Homo sapiens: one gene and its partner. The protein of the gene in region 1 purifies or fractionates together with the protein of each later gene. This does not show direct contact. Each region holds a gene or a part of one and is shown on either strand. Other genes may lie near its edges. The genes, in order: OGFR and SHTN1.

Region 1 (3,642 bases):
GAAAAGACCCCCTTGGAGAGCTCAGGCACCATCCCTGAAGCCCCGGTTCCTGAGTGTGGGGGTGGCCGTGGGTCCCGACTCACTCAGAGGCCTGGACTAGACAGACAGACAGACAGACATTTATTTAGAGACAGAGTCTTGCTCTGTTGCCCAGGCTGGAGTGCAATGGTGTGACCTCAAGTCACTGCAACCTCTGCCTCCCGAGTAGCTGGGATTACAGTTGCCTGCCACCACACCTGGCTAATTTTTTTCTATTTTTAGTAGAAACGGGGTTTTGTCACGTTGGCCAGGCTGGTCTCAAACTCCTGACCTCAGGTGATCCACCCGCCTCAGCCTCTCAAAGTGCTGGGATTACAAACGTGAGCCACGGCACCTAGCCTGGACTCAGACTTTTAGGGTAAAGTGACAAGAGACACACTCATGCCTCCATCTCTCCTCTGAGCTGCTCCGAGCTCTCACCAGGGCCTGAGGCTGCCGCCCTCCCCTGAGAGGAAGTCGCTGGCCATGGGAAAGTGCCAGGAGGGGCCCCTCGGCTCTCTAAGTCCCTGCATCCCTCAGGGGCAGCTTCCACACTTGGGTGACCCCACTCCAGCCTAAACCAGTGGTGAGAAAGGCAGGTCCCGCCACTCCGGGTCTCTCAGGGGCTCAGCCCCAGACTCCCGCATGGGGACAAACAGCCTCGGAAATTGAGTTTCTCTAGATGCCTGGTGGGGTGAGGACCACTGGGGAGGGAAGGTCATCATACTGGAGGCTCTTTCGGCCCTTCTGCCTTCCAAGGGACCCCTGAGGGGGCACCAAATGCCTACTGCCAGAGGCGACCCCGTCTCTGCAGCGGCGTGGCTTGCCCAGGCCTCCCCATCTTCCCCTCCAGTCACAGCCAAGGCCTGGCTCACCTCGACCTCCCTGAGCGTGAGGGGCTTGGCATGCCAGTTCACTCCTGGTTCTCGCAGAGGAAACAGCCTGCAGGAGAAGAGATGCTCAGGCAAGGGATTAGGAGAGCCGCTTCCAGACCTTGGGCAGGTGCTCGCTGTGTAGCCCGGGGCAGTTCCAATCCCCTCTGGGTTCCCAGGCTCAACTCTAGGAGGGAGTGGCTAGGTGGAGGAGCGAGGGTGGGAGAGCTCAGGTGAGCGTGCAAGGGCCCAGGACAGGAGGTGTGTGGTGCGTAAGTCACAGCCTGCATGCTCAGCAGGACTGGGGAGGTGACTCAGGCAGCGAGGGGCCCTGCAGCCATCCAGCCCGGGCGGACAGGGCCTTCCTTTCTACTCCTCACTCTTCCCTCTCTTGTGTTGTCACTCATGACACGTCACACACCAGCAGAGGCTCCCTGTGGACGCCCAGCGAGCTGTCCCCAAAGCAGGGCATGCTGTTTCCGGGGCCACATTGTGGGTCCCCAAGACGCCTGCCACAAGTCTCATCCCAGCACTACGCCAGGACCCTGCCCCAGCTGAGTCCGAGACGGGGGCCGCCCCTTGAGGCTCACTGAGGCCTCCTGGCACTAAGGCTGCCCCTCTGGCAGGCAGTGCCTGCCCCCTCTCCTGTTTCAGGGAGCTTGTGTGCAGCCCTTCCTGTCTCCCTGGTCACCAAGAGCCCACAGATTGGGGACAGACCTGAGCCTTCCCTCAGCGGCCCTTGCATGTCCAGTAATGTCCATCCGTGTAATGTGGACACCAGCTTCCAGGAAGGGCAGGGAGTGCTCAGTCCGTGCCAGGAAGCAGCGTCGGGAGGGCTCCTGCCTGGGAGGGCCCTCCCCCTGTGGCCTCGCCAACCCCCCATCCCCCCATCCTCCCCAACTCACCACTGGATGTAGGAGTGATTGTCCTCAAGGAGGTCATAGTTGTCCGTCCAGTTCTGAAGAATGTCCTCAATGAAACAGCCTGGGAGCCCCATGGGGACAAGTCAGCTGTGGCAGCCACCCTGCCCGTGCTCAGGAGGACGGGGTGTGGGTGGGGGACATAAGGAGAGAGTGCTGCCAGCAGCTTCCCCAAGCTATTCCTCGCCCTCATCTCCTGAGGCTCTTCAGGGTGCTAGGCTCAGTGGGGCTGCCCATCCCTCCTCCGATGCACAGCCCTTGCCCTGCTGCCATCTGTGACCTGGACCCTTGTTGCTGGCTGGCGGCAAACCCCACTGAGAGCCCGGAAGGTCCCTCTGGGGGAACCACTGGTCCTCGACCAGGACCTGTCTGTACAGGAGGGGGCCTCAGTGCCTCCTGCAAAAGCGTGGCCCGTCAGCCACAGAAATCTGTCCTCAAACACAGCCCCCAGCTGAACCCAGTCCCATGATGTGGCAGGCACAGTCTCCTGAGATGGGGGCCTGACAGTGTTTTGTGCAGCCACCCAGTCTCTGTTTCACGTTGCAGCCCGGCACGTGCATAAACAGGTGTGGGCACGTGCCCGTGAAGCTTTATTGACACTGAAATTTTAATTTCTTATAATATCAAAGTAATAGAACACTGTTCTTTTTTTTTTTTTTTTTTTTTTTTTTTTTGAGACAGAGTCTCATTCTGTTGCCCAGGCTGGAGGGCAGTGGCGAGATCTCGGCTCACTGCAACCTCCACCTCCCAAGTTCAAGCGATTCTCCTGCCTCAGCCTCCTGAGTAGCTGGGACTACAGGCGCACGCTACCACACCTGGCTAATTTTTTTTGTATTTTTAGTAGAGACAGGGTTTCACCATATTGGCCAGGCTGGTCTCGAACTCATGACTTTGTGATCCACCCGCCTTGGCCTCCCAAAGTGCTGGGATTACAAGCGTGAGCCACCAGGCCCGGCCTCTACTTTAATTTTTTGCAACCATTTAAAAATATAAAAGCTATCCTTAGCTCGTTGGTTTACATGTGGCTTTCATGAGGTCGTGCAGGAGTTCAGTAGTTTTGATAGAGACTGTGTGGCCTGAAAAGCTGCAGATATTCAGTCTCTGGCTCTTTACAGAGATAGCCCACCCCGACCCAAACACCACTGCGGAGATCCCAAGCCGGGGATCCTGGAGTCCCTCTGGCCGCCTCCAGGGGGCACTGTGGGGCTATTTGAAAGCCGTGGCCCTGGTAATCGCCGGGTACATCCCAAACCAGGGCCCAGTGGACCACCCCTGCCAGGCAAGGATGGAAGCGCCGGCTGCCAGTGGTTGTGAGGCACCTACCGTTGGGCAGGAAGCGGATCTCATTTCTGTAGAAACTCAGGTTTGGCGTGTCCCCATTGCAGTCTCGTTCCACCAGATCCTGAAGAGCCAGAGAAAGGGGACAGCAGGGATCCATCAGACACAAGCTGCCCTGGGGCCCTCCGTGTCTTTCGGGGAGGCGCATCTGCAAACCTCCAGGCTGGCCCAATACCCCAAGAGCCCGCCTGGCTCCTCACTCTGCAGGTGGGGGCCATTCAGAGGACAGCAGCTGCCTCCAAGCCCCAGGGACCCCCCTTCCCCATTTCGCCAGCCAGGCCAGGCCTGGCAGGTCCCCTCCTCAGCACCCTGAAGGCAGCACAGGGGTTTCCGTGATTCAGGGGTGTGGAGGGTAATGGCTGAGGACAACCTGCAGGAGACAGGGCTGGCATGGGGGTGGGGTGCTGTGTGGGCGGTATCACGGACCCCACACGTGTGCATCACGAGGCTGGCACTATGGCCATGTTTGCAAGGCGACGGTGTGCTGAAGCTCA
Region 2 (4,397 bases), on another chromosome or scaffold:
CAACCTTCAGCTTATAGTCAGCAACCACAACCCCTTTCTCACAGACCTGTAATTTTTTTTTTTTTTTTTTTTTGAGACGGAGTCTCACTCTGTCACCCAGGCTGGAGTGCAGTGGCGCGATCTCGGCTCACTGCAAGCTCCGCCTCCCGGGTTCACGCCATTCTCCTGCCTCAGCTTCCCGAGTAGGTGGGACTACAGGCGCCTGCCACCACGCCCGGCTAATTTTTTGTATTTTTAGTAGAGACGGGGTTTCACCGTGTTAGCCAGGATGGTCTCGATCTCCTGACCTCGTGATCTGCCCGCCTTGGCCTCCCAAAGTGCTGGGATTACAGGCGTGAGCCACTGTGCCCGGCCACAGACCTGTAATCTTTATTAAAAACAAAAAAACAAAAAAAAAACAAAAAAAAACTGCATTATAAATTCTGGACTTGGTGTTTTGTTAATCTTCCTCTATTAAATCCTTACAACTCTTCCTTGAGAGTAGGTATCACTATTCTTCCTATTCTTCAGATGAAGTTCAAAGATGCAGGAGACTTGACCAAAGGTTAGCTCGCAACTAGGGGTTGGGGAGAAGCACCTTTGAAACAATGCAGACCTGCCACTTCTCTCCTGGGCATGGTCTAACACAGACATGAGTTCAAATAGTTCAGAGGGCAGTGAACTGGGACAAACGCTTGGCTTAACTGCCAGCCTCTGCTGCCCGGGGGCTGCGTGACCTTCGGCATTCGGACTGCAGTGGCACCCTCTCTAAAGGGAAGGTCATCCCGCCACCAACCAGATGATCTGCAAGGGCCCTCCAGGCCCCACCATCCACGTGCAGCAGGGTCCACGTTCTGACCACCTGGCAAACCTGGTGCGATGGGGGAAAGCTAGCCAGGGCCCTCCTTCACTCACGGCATGGTCATTTAAGTAGCTGGGCGGCCTGATTCGATCCTTGTCTCCTCTTCAAGGTGCAAAATGTACCACCCTGGGCCCGCCCCTGTGGGCAGCTAGGTTTTGCAACCGCGCCCCCAGAGTCTACTGCGGGAAAACTAGGGAAGAAGCCCAGGCGTTCATGGCTCATTGCGTCCCGCTCTACCTCTGTGGTTCTTTGGGAGCGACCCCCGGGAAGCGTCCAAAGTGGAGTTCCCACACACGCTGCGAACCCACAGCCGGTTTTCTCTGAACTCGCGTCCCTGAGTCCGGGAGGTGGAGGCGGAGAAAAGGGTGCGGAGCGACCCCACGCAGGGCCGCCCCCCCTCCCACCAGCGCGTCCTGCCGCGCCGGCAGCCACAGGCTGGCATAGCGGCTGCCGACCCGCCCTCGTTCCTCCACCCCCTGAACGGGACTGCTGGGCCCGCCCCGCCCCGCCTGCAGGTGAAGCGGCCGCAGCCGCCGAGTAGGTGCGTGGGGATGATCTCACTCGCGCGCTCCGCGCCAGGAGGAGGAGGAGCGGGAGCGGATCCAACTTCCGGGTAGTGGAGCCGCAAGCCACCGGCATCTTGCTTTTTCTTCCCCCTCCTCCTGTGTGCCCCGCGCCGCTCCCTCTTTCCCTTTTATTCCCGGCCCCACCCGCCAAAATGAACAGCTCGGACGAAGAGAAGCAGCTGCAGCTCATTACCAGTCTGAAGGAGCAAGGTAGGCAGCACGCGGGCGCCAGGTGTGGGCAGCCGCGGCCCGTGGGCGGGGACGGCCCCAGGGCGCTGGGGCCAGGGCAGTTGGAAGCCGGGCGGGAGACGTGGCGGCCGCCGTGGTCACCGCAGTAGCTCCGTCACCCGCAGAGAAGCGTCCTCCGTGGCCGGCGCGCCTGGGAAAGCTCTGGACCGAGGATAACGCGGAGTGTCGGGGCTAGTCAGGCCCCGCAGCTCGAGACCCGCTGCCCGCTGGTTGCGTTTGCTGGCGATCGGGGGCTGGGGGAAGGGACGAGGATTCAGTGCGGACGAGGTTGCACAGTGCCACCTTCCTTGCCGGAGAAGCGGGTGGGGCAGGATATTTTGGCTGCTTTGGGCGGCTCAGCTAGCTTGGCCCCACCCTTACACATTTGTTGGCGCTGGGTGGCCTGTAGGGCTGTTTCACACCCTTCCCAGCTTTTCGTTTGGATTCGGTCTAGTTCCTCTTTCCTTGCCCAGCTGGGATTTTCAGGCCATAATTTTTTTTTTAATCACTTCTCAATTTTAGCAGTTTATTAGTCAGCAAGGTCAACATCCTGCCAGTGTTGAGCTTTCAGAATTAACAGGGTTGACGCTGGGCGAAGGAGAGCCAGGCCATGCGCACGCATTTCTGTACTGCTTGGTAACTGGGGATTATCCTTTAATAAAGACCTGCTTCAGTCAATCATTTTTTTCATCAGTTACCACACTTCTGAACCAAACCAGATCAACAACCAAATGCTAACCTATCACATTTAAACACTTATCATTATTACCCTGACCAAAGGGTGGTCTGCGAATGTGGGTCAAGACAGGGAGGAACCAGCCGGGTGCGGTGGCTCACGCCTGTAATCTCAGCAATTTGGGAGGCCGAGGCAGGTGGATCACCTAAGGTCAGGAGTTCGAGACCAGCCTAACCAACATGGAGAACCCCTATCTCTACTAAAAATACAAAATTAGCCGGGCGTGGTGGTGCATGCCTGTAATCCCAGCTACCCGGGAGGCTGAGGCAGGAGAATCGCCAGGAGGCGGAGGTTGCGGTGAGCCAAGATGGCGCCGTTGCACTCCAGCCTGGGCAACAAGAACGAAACTCCATCTCCAAAAAAAAATAATAATAATAAATAATAAAGAAATAAAGGGAGGAACCATACAGATTTAAAGGAAGTAAAAATGTGTAGGAACATGTACTTTTCTGAATGTCTTGCTGACAAGACCATGTAATGGAAGGATCCCTGCTCTGTGGCAAAACCTGGTATTTAGTTGCAGCTCTTTCACTTCTCTTGGCCCAGCTCACCTGCTCTGTGAACTTGGAGGAGTCTCTTTCCTTCCGTGGATCTTCTGGTCAATCAAGGCCGACCTGACTAAAGGCGAGGGTGAAACTGGAGGACTTTCTGAGGTCCTGTCCAGTACTCTTACCTGTTGTTGCGTAAAACCACAGACACCGTTGGGAAGTGCTCCCGGATTCCTCTGAAGCCACACTCTGGCAAACAAATTTCAACATTACTGTTTACTGTGTGACCCTGGGGAAATTATTTAACCTCTGAAATGGACATAACACATTCTTCTGTGATATCCAGCATCTAGAAAGTGCTGGATAAATGTTAGTCTCTTTGGCCTTCCCAGCACCTTTACCTGGCATCCTAGATTAGCCTGAGGTCATAAAGTCACAAGCATCAGTGAATTTAGTGGGTGGACAGAATGCCTTTATCTGAAGTTTCTCAAGTGTTTTAGCGAGGGACTGGATTCTACTGACTGGTATTTTATATTTAATACACCTTCGCCCAACCCAAAACATTAAAACTTGATTCATATTCTAGATTTGTGGAGCTTTCATTATAGGTAATATCTGTCAGTGGATATCAGATCTTCTTATGGTTGGTCAGTTTTCGAATAATGATAAACATAAAAAAATTTTCCCTTTCATTTCTTGTATAATCAAGGGTCGATTAACAATGTAGATAATCTGCAAATTGCTTATATTTGATTTCGGAACACATTCTCCATTCCTATGTTGGGTTTGAGGCCTGACAAAAAGGATTTCTATATTTGTGGCTCTTTCTCCTATTGCATTGTATTGGAAAATAAACAAATCCTTGGCATTGGTATTTTTAGAGGATATATTTCCTTGATTAAGTGCATATGAAAGGTAATAGAACAGTTAGATATTCAAAGTTGTGTTTCTTAAAAGGTACACTTTTGGGGATAGTGAGTCTAGTTACAAAGGTGTTGGGATTTTTTCAGCCCACAGTGTGATTTTTATACATTTCAAAACCAGGTAGTTTGCTTGTCATTGGATCACAGACTGTGGAAACAATTTACTTCAAAAGTGTTCAGTTACTGTTTGACCTGTAGAACTAATTGGGAAGCTAGGGATTTGGAAGAACAGGTAACTGGGTCTTTGAGCATTTAACAGTACATACTATGATCAATTTTGTAAGCTGATGGTTGCATGGTTTATTTTTGAAAATAGTAATTTTTACTACCTGTTACTACCTTTTTACTCACAATGTTAATATTCTGAGTGATAATTCCACTACCCCTATTTAGTGTGAGCAAGAAGAACCACTATTTATCAAATATGTTATTTTCCCTTAATAATGCTGAGTAAACATATTTATTCATTCCTTCAACAAATACTTATCAAGTACCACCATATGTCAGGTCCATGTGGTAGGCACTAGGGGTGTAAATAGTGAACTACACAGTCCTTGTCACCAAATTAATTTTCTAGAAGAGAAGACAGGTACTATTCAAGTTATCATATGAATA

Evidence for each region.
Region 2: the proteins of OGFR (region 1) and SHTN1 fractionate together in Homo sapiens (co-fractionation; one large-scale study listed by BioGRID). This does not show direct contact.

What each region holds. Positions count from the first base shown.
Region 1 is NC_000020.11:62,807,817-62,811,458, reverse strand, and holds part of OGFR (opioid growth factor receptor), read right to left. Parts: intron 3,213-3,642; coding exon 3,134-3,212; intron 1,875-3,133; coding exon 1,796-1,874; intron 961-1,795; coding exon 894-960; intron 1-893. UniProt on the Homo sapiens protein: Receptor for opioid growth factor (OGF), also known as Met-enkephalin. Seems to be involved in growth regulation.
Region 2 is NC_000010.11:117,002,242-117,006,638, reverse strand, and holds the start of SHTN1 (shootin-1), read left to right. Parts: upstream 1-1,451; 5' UTR 1,452-1,559; coding exon 1,560-1,617; intron 1,618-4,397. UniProt on the Homo sapiens protein: Involved in the generation of internal asymmetric signals required for neuronal polarization and neurite outgrowth.